Linked DNA regions of Homo sapiens. The protein of the gene in region 1 interacts with the protein of each later gene in a pairwise test. Each region holds a gene or a part of one and is shown on either strand. Other genes may lie near its edges.

Region 1 (3,748 bases):
TATTTTAAATTAGTATACATGCAGTATCAATAAAGAGACCAAAAAAAAACCTTCAATGTCACAACACTATCAACTAGTCTAATGATTTTTACGTGTACAATCTTTTCTTATTATTTCTTATTTTTAAGACGCACTTAATTAAATAGTATCTGTAAATCTAAGAAAGGTCGGAAGGGAAAACCAGGGTATTGGGCAAAAACGTTTCCATCAGCATCATATATTAATTTGAGTTCCTTAAAAGGAGTGGATAAATGTCTTCCACAGACACTTTATTCTCCTAAAGATCCTTCTTTACTCTCTACTCCCTGGAAGATTCAGTTCGTTCTCACAAAATATTGCCATTGGGCACTTTTATCAACTACAACAGACAAAGAGGCATCAGGATAGAGGGGAGAGGATCTTTCACAAAGCTCTAATCTCAGCCACGCACGGTGGCCCACGCCTGTAATCCCAGCACTTTGGGAGGCCGAGGCAGGCGGATCACCTGAGGTCAGGAGTTCGAGACCAGCCTGGCCAACGTGGTGAAACCCCGTCTCTACTGAAAAATACAAAAATTAGCTGTGCGTGGTGGCGGGCGCCTGTAATCCCAGCTACTCGGGAGGCTGAGGCAGGAGAATCGCTTGAACCCGTGAGGCGGAGGTTGCAGTGAGCCGAGACCGCGCCATTGCATTCCAGCCTGGGCGACAACAGCTAAACTCCGTCTCAAAAAAAAAAAAAAAAAAAAAAAAAACTAATCTCAGGAACGTCCTAATACAATTTATTTGAGAATTAGAAACGATCTTTGGAGTAAATACATATTTACAACACTTTACTTGTAAATGACAATGACATCGAGAAATCTTAAGCCAGCTAGAAAGTAAATCACATGGTGTCATCTCCGCTCAAAATGCTCCAACGGCTTCTCGTCTTATTCTGAGACTGACTGGGTCTGCACTCCAACTCCATCCCAACACATACACCCATCTCCGATTACCCTTCCCGCTGGTTCACCACTATCGGCTACGCCGGCCTCCTGAGGTTCTTAGAACATGCCGTGCACATCCCTGCCCGGGAATTTTGCACTTGCTGTCCCCTCTTACCTGTTCCACTCTTTGCTCGGATTTCTGTATTTATGACTTTTCAATTTCCTTCAAGTCTCGGCTCAGATGCCACTTCTCAGTGGAGCTTTTCTTGTTTAAAAATACAAGCCAGCCTCCCACACCTCTTCCCCCTTCCCTGTGTTATTTTTCTCCATAGCACTTATCACCTTCCAATGCGGGCGGGAGAAGCACTGCTCCTCAGGGGGGCGCGAAACCCCGAGCCGGGGGGCCTCCCCTCTCCCACGCTCCCGGCCCCCGCAGACTCACCAGGTTCCGCAGCTGGGCCGCCTGCTCCTTGTGATAGTCCAGCCGTCCCAAGGAGCAGGGCCGATACTTGTCCACCCAGAGGCTCATGGCAGCTCGAGTTCCCGGGGGCCTACGCTTGAAAATCCCGCGCGAGCGCGCGTCCTCCCCACAACGCAGAGACAAGTTTTCCCGCGAGCTCCAAATCTCGTGACGTCACTACCGGTCGCGGCCGCGTAAATGATTTTGGACGGAAAGGCTACGGGGGCCGTGTGCAGACAAAATCAGCTGCCGCGTCGATGCCCTCTAGTTCTGAAGTTCACTGCTTTATTTATTTTCTCTTTGTTCGCACCGTCTATTATATTCTAGAAATTATCAAGCGGAATTGAAAATGTGGTTCTGACCCTTTTGGCGTCACATCCAGATACCTCAGAGAAGACCGTTCCTTTCATTTATTCATTCTTTCATTCACTTAATTCATTCAACAAAAATTTACTAAATATCTGCTAGGTGTGGAACTCTGTCCTCGGCACTAGAATATATACATCTCAGGGTTTCACTCACTTGGCAGGTACCCAGTAAAGCTTCATTGGATGAATCGCTTGAAAATGTCTGATCTTCACTATCCTTTGTTACCTCTATTCCTCAATATTCTTATTGGATTAGAAACAAAAGAATCAAGAGCATGGAAAAACTACCCAAATGTGGTCTGTAGGGGAGAAGACACGAGGTTAATATGCATTCTAAGTCTAGAATATTTGAAAGCCCTCCAATTAAAATGTGTAGAAGCATCTGAACCCCTCAGAAAAATATTCTGCATATGAAGTTGATATGCAACTTTTGAAGTTCTCTTCAAATAGTGCCTCTCAAAATGCACTTTACTCATTGTACATAATATTAATTCCTTATTTAATTTATGCTTTTATTTTATGTATTATTAAGAACCCTAAGTCCTGCCATTTGATTGCAAGGTCTTACAGGCAGGAAATGATTTCCAAATATACTTAATAACCTTTCACCAAGGTGCCTCTTACTCATTTATTAATCAATAATTTATCATGTTCTTCTATGAATCGTCATATTACATGAATTACTCCTGCAGGTAAGGTATTATCCACACCACCAAGTATAAGATTTAATCCCTGTTCTCGAGAAACTTTCTATAATAAGCCTGGAAGGCTTCTGCCTCAGGGCCTTTGCAATTACTGTTTCCTCTTCCTGGACTATGTTTCTCCAGTCAGCAGAGTTGGGTCCCTCATTTCCTTCAGGATGTTGGCTCAAGTATTATCTCCTCACTGAGGCTTCCCTGACCACCCTATTTAATATTGCAAAAAAGCTTCATCTTCTTTATGCTTCTCTCCTTTGGAATTGAAATGGAGGAAGTGTTTGAAATGAGAAGGTAAAGGAAATCAGAAGCAGGGATACTGAATTGTGGTCTATGTGTATATCATAATCATAATGAATGATAATGGAAATAAGTACTGAGAGGAATAAAGAGAAGAACCAAGTGCTAGAATGATCAATAATTTGGCAAGAGTGACCACAGGCATGACAGACAACTTCAATAAGGAGCAGTGGTTGATGGTCTCTACCGTGAAGACATGTCTCTACCATTGAAGCACATGAAGACATGTGCTTCAATATTGTTGGGGGTTCTGAGGAAGGAGAAATAGTGTGGTGACCCAGGAAGTCCAGTTAAATTTGAATTTCAGAAGCTTTTTCATATGTCTATGGCAAAATTTATTACAAATGATTTTTTTTCTCATATAAGTATGTCCCTGGCAATATTTGAAATTGTAATAAATATTGCCAGGGACATACTTATATGAGAAAAAAAATCAGCCTTTATCTGAAATTCAAATGTAACCAGGGCCCTGTATTTATCTAGCAATTTTACTCCAGACTCTTGAATATATAGGATATGAGAAATTGCTACAGAGGAAGTAAAGTCCTCGGGGTTGGTAAACTACAGCTGCAATCACTTTAATGTTTAATGACTCTGGCCCTCAGGTATCTTAGCTCTTTTTTTTTTTCTTGAGATGGAGTCCCAGTCTGTCTCCCAGGCTGGAGTGCAGTGATGCGATCTCGGCTCACTGCAACCTCCACCTCCTGGGTTCAAGCGATCCTCCCACCTCAGCCTCCCATGTAGCTAGGGTTACAGTTGTGCACCACCACGCCCAGCTAATTTTTTGTATTTTTAGTAGAGACAGGGTTTTACCATGTTGACCAGGCTGGTCTCGAACTCCTGAGCTCAGGCAAGCCAGCTGCCTCGGCCTCCCAAAGTGCTGGGATTACAGTAGCGAGCCACCACGCCCGGCAATCATATAGTAATTGTAAGTTTAATTTTTTGAGTAACTGCCATACCGTTTTCCACAGTGGCTGCACCACTTTACATTCCCATGAGCAATGCAAAAAGATTCCAATTT
Region 2 (3,748 bases), on another chromosome or scaffold:
AGAAGAGCAGCCACAAGCAGCCTACAAGCCTGACGCTGGGCCCAGGTCAGAAACAGAGGTGCGACAGTCACAGGTCCTTCACTCAGTTGGCCAGGCCGGGGCGAAGCACCACGACCAGCAGTGAGGAGTCCACAGATGGGTGTCTGCCCAGCATCCCTGGAGTTACAGCTGAAGGGAAGGCGAGGGAGGCTCAGAAGGCCCAGAGGACAGCCTTGCAGCCGGAAAAAACCCAAAGCAAAGATCAGCTCAGCATTTCCGATAGGCAGAGTGCTGTTTTGGGTATTTCATTATGAGTTAACATATTTATTCTCATGAACTTCTTATGAAATAAGTTTGGTTGTCATCTCCACTTGACGGATGAGGACCCTGAGGTGAAGAAACTTGCCCAAGGTCACAGCTAGTGAGCAGCAGATCCATGATTCCAAATCCAGGCTGTTTAACCCCAGAGGCTTTGCTTTTAACTGTGCCATTTTTCTGCTTCTTGCAAGTTGAGACTGAAGAGAGCCATGAAGAAGACTCTTACTGGGGACTCTGAAATGACACCTTAGCCGGGGGAGGAGTGGAGCCTTGAGAGTGAGGGCAGTTGAGTACTCGGGTCTGGGACTTAGAGCTTCCAAGATTTCTACCACCTCCCACTCCCCTCGGGTTTGTAAAGCTGCCTCCATTTGCATTGGGAGTGCGGGGGGGCTGCCTGGGGGACTGTGGCGATTGTCCTCAGGCTATTGGCTGAGAGTGGTATGCCACTGACTTATTCCTCCAAGAGACATTTCCAGTACCCTCCATCCCTGCCCCCTGTACTACACACTGGTGACCTTCCCCCTCAAAAACAAAACTCAAACTCTGTCCCTGATGCTCATGGTCTACTGAAAACAGAATTACAGCTGTCTGTGAATGACCTCTGACCAAGCTGGGGGGACACAGAGAAGGGACTTGTGACTTGCTTTGCCAGGGAGGTCCTGAGAGGCTGTCCAGGGAAGGTGACATTGAGGCCGGGACTTGAGCTGGCTGTTTGAAGGCAGGAAAAATGGCAGGGCAAGGACTGGAGTCCTTCGCCTTCCTGGGGGACGTTTATTCCACATGCCTCGGGAAATCTGAAATGGCCTTGGAGAGCATTTGCTGGGGGTTGGGGGTGGGCGGAAGGGGACAGAGAGCATTGCCACCGACAGGCGGGGCGTCCCAGGGCCTCTCCCCAGGAGCGGATGAGCTCAGACGCGGCTCACTCAGCTGTGTCCAGGCACAGCCGGTTTATGACCTAAGAGAATGACAACCCAGGAGCAAGTCGGGATGACAAAGACGCCCAGAAGGGCACGCGCTTTTATGTAACCGACCTCTGAGCTGGCGGATCTCAGGAGGTTGGCGCTCTGAGCTCAGGCGCGGAGAAAGGACGGCGCCCCTGCCTTACTCTCTTATAAGTACGAGGGGACAGCAACGCGACATAACTTAGAGAAGTCCAGGAAGCTTTAGAGAGCAGGGCGGTCCCGCTGCTATTCCTCAGAGCGCGACTGGGGCGAACTGGGGCGCCCTTCCCAGCTCCAGCTCGGCCCTTGTCCCCTCTTCCCAGGATCACTCGCTGGGTGACCTTGGGCGAGCCACTTGACTTCTCTGAGCCCCAGTTTCCCAGTCCGTGCATCTGAAAGGCTGTAATAGCGTCGTGGGGCTCCCCACTCGGCCCTCAGGGCCAAAGGTGGGCGCCGGACACGCGGGAGGGGCCCTTGGACGCACCCCCTCTCGCAAACGCCCGGTTAGTCCCGGCGGACTCGCAGTGGAGAGCGGCCCCAGGAGGCGGCGGGCGGCGGGGCGGTGGGCGCCAGTGCGCAGGCGCGGCGCGGCAGGGCGGGGCGGCGGGCGCGGGGCGGGGCGGGGCGGAGCCGGGCGGGGCGGGGCCGGCGGCAGGCGCTGGGCGCTCGGCGCGGTGGCTCAGAGTGCGCGGGGCGGCGCGCGGCGTGCAGGTCGCAGCTGTGGCTCGGGTGCTGGCAGGTGCTGGCGGGACTGGCGGGGATCGCCGTGGACTGCCTCAGGGGCGCCGCAGCCCGCTCGGCCCGAGGGCCCGCCTAACCGCGCCGCCCGCGCCCGCTCCTCCTCGGCCCGCGCCCGGAGCGCGGGGGCCGCCGGCGCTGGGTACTCGGCGGCCACCGGGGATCGGGGCTGAGCGGTCGGTTCCCGCCCCCGTGCCGCCGCCGCCGCCTTCCGGCCGACCGCCCGGCTTGGCCGCTGCTGCCGCGTCTGGCCCCCGGGTCCCCGCCGCTGGGGGCGCGGGCGGGGTCGGGGGTTGCCGGGCGCCGCCCCCCGTGCGCCTGGAGTCCACATCCCGGGCCCGGCGGCCGGCGAGCATGGAGGAGAAGTACCTGCCCGAGCTGATGGCGGAGAAGGACTCCCTGGACCCCTCCTTCACGCACGCCCTGCGCCTGGTGAACCAAGGTGAGGCGCCGGCCGTTAACTGCCGGCCGGCGGCGGTTGGGGGCCGGGTGGAAACGCGGGGGCCCAGGGGGCCCCTCCGTGCCCTCTGCTGTCAGCGGACGCGGCGGAGACGGAGGCCCGGGTGGCCCCCGGGGTCGTTTGCACGGGGACCTGGGAGGCTGTGGGACACCTAGGGGAAGACCCTGATGTGAATTTTGGGGACTTGGAAGGAGAAGGCTGGGGCGCATGGGTGAGACTTGAAGGAAATCTTTGGGGACTCGGGCACACCCAGGGGAAACTTCTGGGTGGGGGACAGCGACCATCTGGGGGCTTCGTTGGGAACGAGGTTGAATTATGTCATGGAAGGGGAGCGTGTTGGACTCGGGGAAGTAGGGCGTTTGGTTTGTCTAAGGTACTGGAGAAAAAGCTGGAGGAAAATGGAAGGACTTGAGGGACTCAAATGCAGAAGAGGTGAAGGGAACAGGTGCTTGCATTGTTAGCGAAGTTTGGGGACCTTGGAAGAGGGTTGGGGTCAGACCCCAGCACCTGAGAGGAGAGGAGCTCCGTGGTCCCAGGGGAGGAGCCCAGTTCCCCCTCCCAGCCCTTTGTCTCTCCTGTGTCCAGGCTCCAACAGCCCTGGCGGGGCAGTCAGCCCTCCCAGGGGATGGGCAGCCCATGCCAAGCCTTGCAGGCTGGCCCTTGGAGAAGTCAGTAGGGGAGAAGAGGCCGGCAAAAGAGCACCGTTCCGGAGGGCGTTGGGTTGGGTGACCCTCATTGGTGGCTGGCTTGAGGTTCGGAATAGTGGTGAAGGGAGTCCTTGCCATTTTCACACGACTCCAGCCAGCTCAGGGTGTGAAAGATCCTAGGAAGTACTGCGGGTCAGGGATACAGAGATTTCTGGAGGCACGCCTACCCGGGACAGTGTTCCCCTGGCTTTTTCCTCCTGTGGCTTCCTGAATCATCTGCTGGCATGCACGGTAAATTAAGCCTTCCTTCCTGGGAGCAGTCTCCTACTTTTCCTGGAATATGTGTTTCAGATGAAGATGGGTGTGGGTGCCACTGGTCTGTCTTTTCTCTGGGAAATGGCAGCAACATGATCTGGTCAGATCTGTTACCTTTTGCAGGAATTACTGTGCACTGACAGTCTGTGGTTCCCTAGATGAATCGGATCTGCTGCTCTTAGTGCTCGCCCTGGCTTTTTTATTGTTGGAAGTGAAAGATGAGGCAGACATATTCTATTTGTATATAGATACCTATATTTTAAAACAGTGACCTCCAGTTTTTGCCTGTTTCAACCAGTTCTTCAGAGTAGAGTGTGTGTGTGGTTGACCGATGGTGGAGGAGAGACTCT
Region 3 (3,748 bases), on another chromosome or scaffold:
TGCATGACCCTTCAACTACTAAACATTCTGCACACAGATAAAATAGCAAGAACTTTCTGTATATATACTCAATTCTAAATAATAGCTCCTTTGAAAGTAACATAAGAATCAGAAAGAGATTAAGAAGCACATCCAGAAAGATACCAATACTTTATGGTCCCCTATTACACTTAGAATAAAATCCAAATAATTTTCATTCATCAAATCTTCAGTGTTTGTACACATCAATCCCCCCTCCCTTATTGATTCCATTCTTTCCCATATTACAGTAGTCACATTGACCTCAGTCAATTCCAAAAGACAGCACAGTTCTTTCCACCACAGGGCTTTTTCAGGGGCAAGTTCCCCTGCTTGGAATGTCTTTCTTTGCACATTGTACTCACTTGGTTCATTCTTTTCCATGAGTTTTCACCGTAAATATCAGCTGCTTATCGAGATTGTATGTTTACCCTAGTCAAAAATAAAGAAACTAATGTCTTCCCTTGTATTCTCTTTCTTAACTCCTTGGTTCATTCTTGACCTTTATTGCAGTCAACAATTACCATTCCTCTTGTATACTTGGTTTTATTTATCTTCTCCCATTAGAAAACATCTTTGTGATGACAAGGAATGAATGTGTATGTATCTTATTCACCAATGTTTCTCCAATTTTAAGTACTGTCCCTAGACTCTTTTCAGTATCCAATAAACATTTGTTGAATGCACACATGCACAAATAAATTAAATATATAACACACAGAAAGGTAGGTTGAAGCAGTATATTCTGGATATAAATGGTGCTAATATAGAATTGAATTTTAATCTCAACTTCAGCATTAACTAGACATGAGACGATTTCTCTGTTTTGCCTCAGTTTCCATATTTATACAAACAGAGAAAGTAATACTTGGCTGGCATTTTTCAGAGTGCTTCTGTGAGGACGTATTGAAATAATCAATGTGAGGCACGTTACGTTATTTAAACATTATACAAATAAAAGTTAATCTCCCGAATTTATCTAAAAATTAAAAGGAAAATATTTAAATACAGTAAGATAAGTTGGAAAAATTTCAGCACATTTTATTTGTAGCAAAGTTGGCCCTCATTCTTCCACACCAAAAATAATGGGGGAGAGAAGAATCAGGAAATGACTACTTATGAAACGAGAACCCAAGACTTGGGGAAAGATTGTTTCCTAGCGATTGAGGCATGCAAGTTACATTTTATAGCCGCATTGGTAAAAGAAGGATGGGCTTTGCCTCCACGCTTGGTGATATCATGAGGGTTTAACTTTCCTTTAAATAGAGGTGGGATAATACAAAGTAGCTCAGCAACAGTACCTGGTGAAAGAGACTGGCACATCTAAAACTAGGAGAAAGGGGAAAATTAGAGCAAACGTGGTTACCTATTTTCTAGTCTCTTCTTTCTTCTACATGTCTTCCCAATTCTTTCACAAACTGTGACTAATGAATCATATTGTTTTTGGTTTTTAAATTCAGCCCCTCCCAACCTCCCTTCCACAGATAGGGTCTGGGGAAAGGAGGCACGGATAGGTTACCAGAACTAATTCAATATCCTAATGATTGTACACCTCAATCATGTCTCTGCACAATATTTCTTCGAGCCGCTTTATTTGTTTATCAATGAACATCCTACTGCGTCCCTGAGATGTAGGTCATCGGAAATACCAGCTGCCGATCACATGCAGTCTTCATTGTATTTCCAGACCCAGTGCGCTGCTGATTCCTGCACAACTGGAGTGCGCCTGAGCTGTGTGAGGGAAAGGAGACACCTGTGCCTTAGGGACGCAGGTGAAGTCCCATCTACCTTCCTGAGACTTTCCCTGGCGCTTTTCCACCCTCTCGGGTGGCTCACTTCTCATCTCCATCTCCCCTGTCCACTTGTACTCAGACCTCTCTCTTTAACCTGCGCTTTTCCCGCGCTCTCTCTCCTCTGCGCCTTAGCTGAAGACACAGAGAACTCCACAAAACTGGGCATGCCTAATAGCCAGGGAAGGCTTGGGCGCAAGAAGAAAGCGTTTGCATCTTCCGAGCTCCCTTCCCCTCTGCAGCTGCCTCCTGCCAGTCAGGCCACCCGACTTGCGCTACCGCCCAATGAGAGCCCGCGGCCTTCTGCCAGCGCCCCGCCTCTCCTGGCACCACCACCAATGAGTGGTTGGCGGAGGTGGGCCGCGTCCTGTTCCCGCCTCTCCAGTTAAGGCCGCTGGTGTGAGCCGGGGCTCTGCGCGAGCGAGGGACGACGGAAGGGACGGGCAGGTGTGGGCGCGGGGCCACGCAGCCCGACGGCGGGAGTCGCAGGTGCTGGGTGCATGGGCCAGTGAGGACGCACAGAGATCCCTCGCCGCGCGGAGGAGGAGCAGCGCGGGAGCCAGGCGCTGCCCCAAGACCCTGCCTGCGTCCGAGCGAGCGGAACCTCGCGCTTCGCCCGGGGACAATCCGAAGTCCGCGCTATGGAAGAGGAGAAATATTTGCCTGAGCTGATGGCAGAGAAAGATAGCCTGGATCCATCTTTTGTGCATGCGTCGCGCCTTTTGGCAGAAGGTAGGACTTGCCCCCACAGATGGGCACAAACCGCCGGCTGCCTATCTCACCCGCGGCTTGATTAGGGGAGTGAAGTTGGGGAGGGACTCCTCTCCCCGCCTTCGCAGAAACTGTCCCCCTGAAGATGCTCGCCTTAGAGCTCGGGCGGACAGACCCCGTTCTTGGGGCGGACAGCAGTGCTCCTTCTCCACGTCTTAATTTGGAGAAGACCAAAGCTACGGAGATCTAATGGCAGTGGCGATGTGACCTGTTAGGATCATTGATAGAGAAACCATAAAGTGTATGTAACGCGGTCTACAGGGACATTTTCACTTCGCAGAGGGAAGGGAAAGCAGTTTGGAAGTAAATGGTGATCAATGTAGTGTTCTAAGAGCTTCGTAGCTACAGATCGGTATTTTTATTTTTATTTTTTGCTGCATTTAGGAAGTGATTTTTGATACCCTTTAATCAAAGTCTATCCTATGGAAAGTGTTAGAATTAACCTATGCATTAAACTATGCATGTTCTTATATGTATGTTAATGTGGTAAGTAAAGGCTAAAGTGCTTATACATTTATTTGAAGTGTGATGATTGGGTACTCTGTGAGATATTGGTCCCTGGGAACACTCTATAATTGATCAACTGTTTTACCAAGTGTGCATTTTCTTTTGTGTACCTGTAATGTTAAAGGGGATTTCATTCCTAGAGGAACACATATGTCTTGTTTTTTGCATTGCTTTGAAAGGTTTTTTTTTGAAAAAAGACACATGAACTTTATTAACCGAATTACTCCATTTATGTTATAATAATGCCATCTAAATACTAAAGACACCTATGGTATCTGTAGTTACTTACCCATGCCTTTTTAAAACATCTGCAGATTTTTTTTAGATGAATGCTTCATTAATAATGAATTGCTTCATCATCAAATTGGTTACAATGCAGTTTTGTAGCTAAGTTTGTTATGGACTTACATACAGCAAAAAACTAAAACGGATAACTTCCTCTACCCAAGCTCCTCAGTATTAAAAGATTTTTTTGAGACTTAGTTGTACCAAGGAAGAATAAATTCTGCTCCTCAATATATGATTTAAATAGGCATTAGCTATATTTTTTAATTTATGAATTGTTATTTATATTAACAATGAAGTGTAAGGTATTTTTCTATGTTTAAATACTAAACAATTAGGAAAAGATTTATATTCAAAACATGGAACATGTGAAATAA

The links.
Region 2: the proteins of RFC3 (region 1) and KHDRBS3 interact in binary tests that used the Homo sapiens proteins (3 or more experiments, as listed by UniProt).
Region 3: the proteins of RFC3 (region 1) and KHDRBS2 interact in binary tests that used the Homo sapiens proteins (3 or more experiments, as listed by UniProt).

The regions. Positions count from the first base shown.
Region 1 is NC_000013.11:33,815,864-33,819,611, reverse strand, and holds the start of RFC3 (replication factor C subunit 3), read right to left. Parts: upstream 1,464-3,748; 5' UTR 1,434-1,463; coding exon 1,347-1,433; intron 1-1,346. UniProt on the Homo sapiens protein: Subunit of the replication factor C (RFC) complex which acts during elongation of primed DNA templates by DNA polymerases delta and epsilon, and is necessary for ATP-dependent loading of proliferating cell nuclear antigen (PCNA) onto primed DNA.
Region 2 is NC_000008.11:135,455,537-135,459,284, forward strand, and holds the start of KHDRBS3 (KH domain-containing, RNA-binding, signal transduction-associated protein 3), read left to right. Parts: upstream 1-1,919; 5' UTR 1,920-2,330; coding exon 2,331-2,418; exon of another isoform or gene 2,419-2,439; intron 2,440-2,496; exon of another isoform or gene 2,497-2,643; coding exon of another isoform or gene 2,644-2,647; intron 2,648-3,007; exon of another isoform or gene 3,008-3,367; coding exon of another isoform or gene 3,368-3,374; intron 3,375-3,748. UniProt on the Homo sapiens protein: RNA-binding protein that plays a role in the regulation of alternative splicing and influences mRNA splice site selection and exon inclusion. Binds preferentially to the 5'-[AU]UAAA-3' motif in vitro.
Region 3 is NC_000006.12:62,284,650-62,288,397, reverse strand, and holds the start of KHDRBS2 (KH domain-containing, RNA-binding, signal transduction-associated protein 2), read left to right. Parts: upstream 1-2,172; 5' UTR 2,173-2,449; coding exon 2,450-2,540; intron 2,541-3,748. UniProt on the Homo sapiens protein: RNA-binding protein that plays a role in the regulation of alternative splicing and influences mRNA splice site selection and exon inclusion. Binds both poly(A) and poly(U) homopolymers. Phosphorylation by PTK6 inhibits its RNA-binding ability.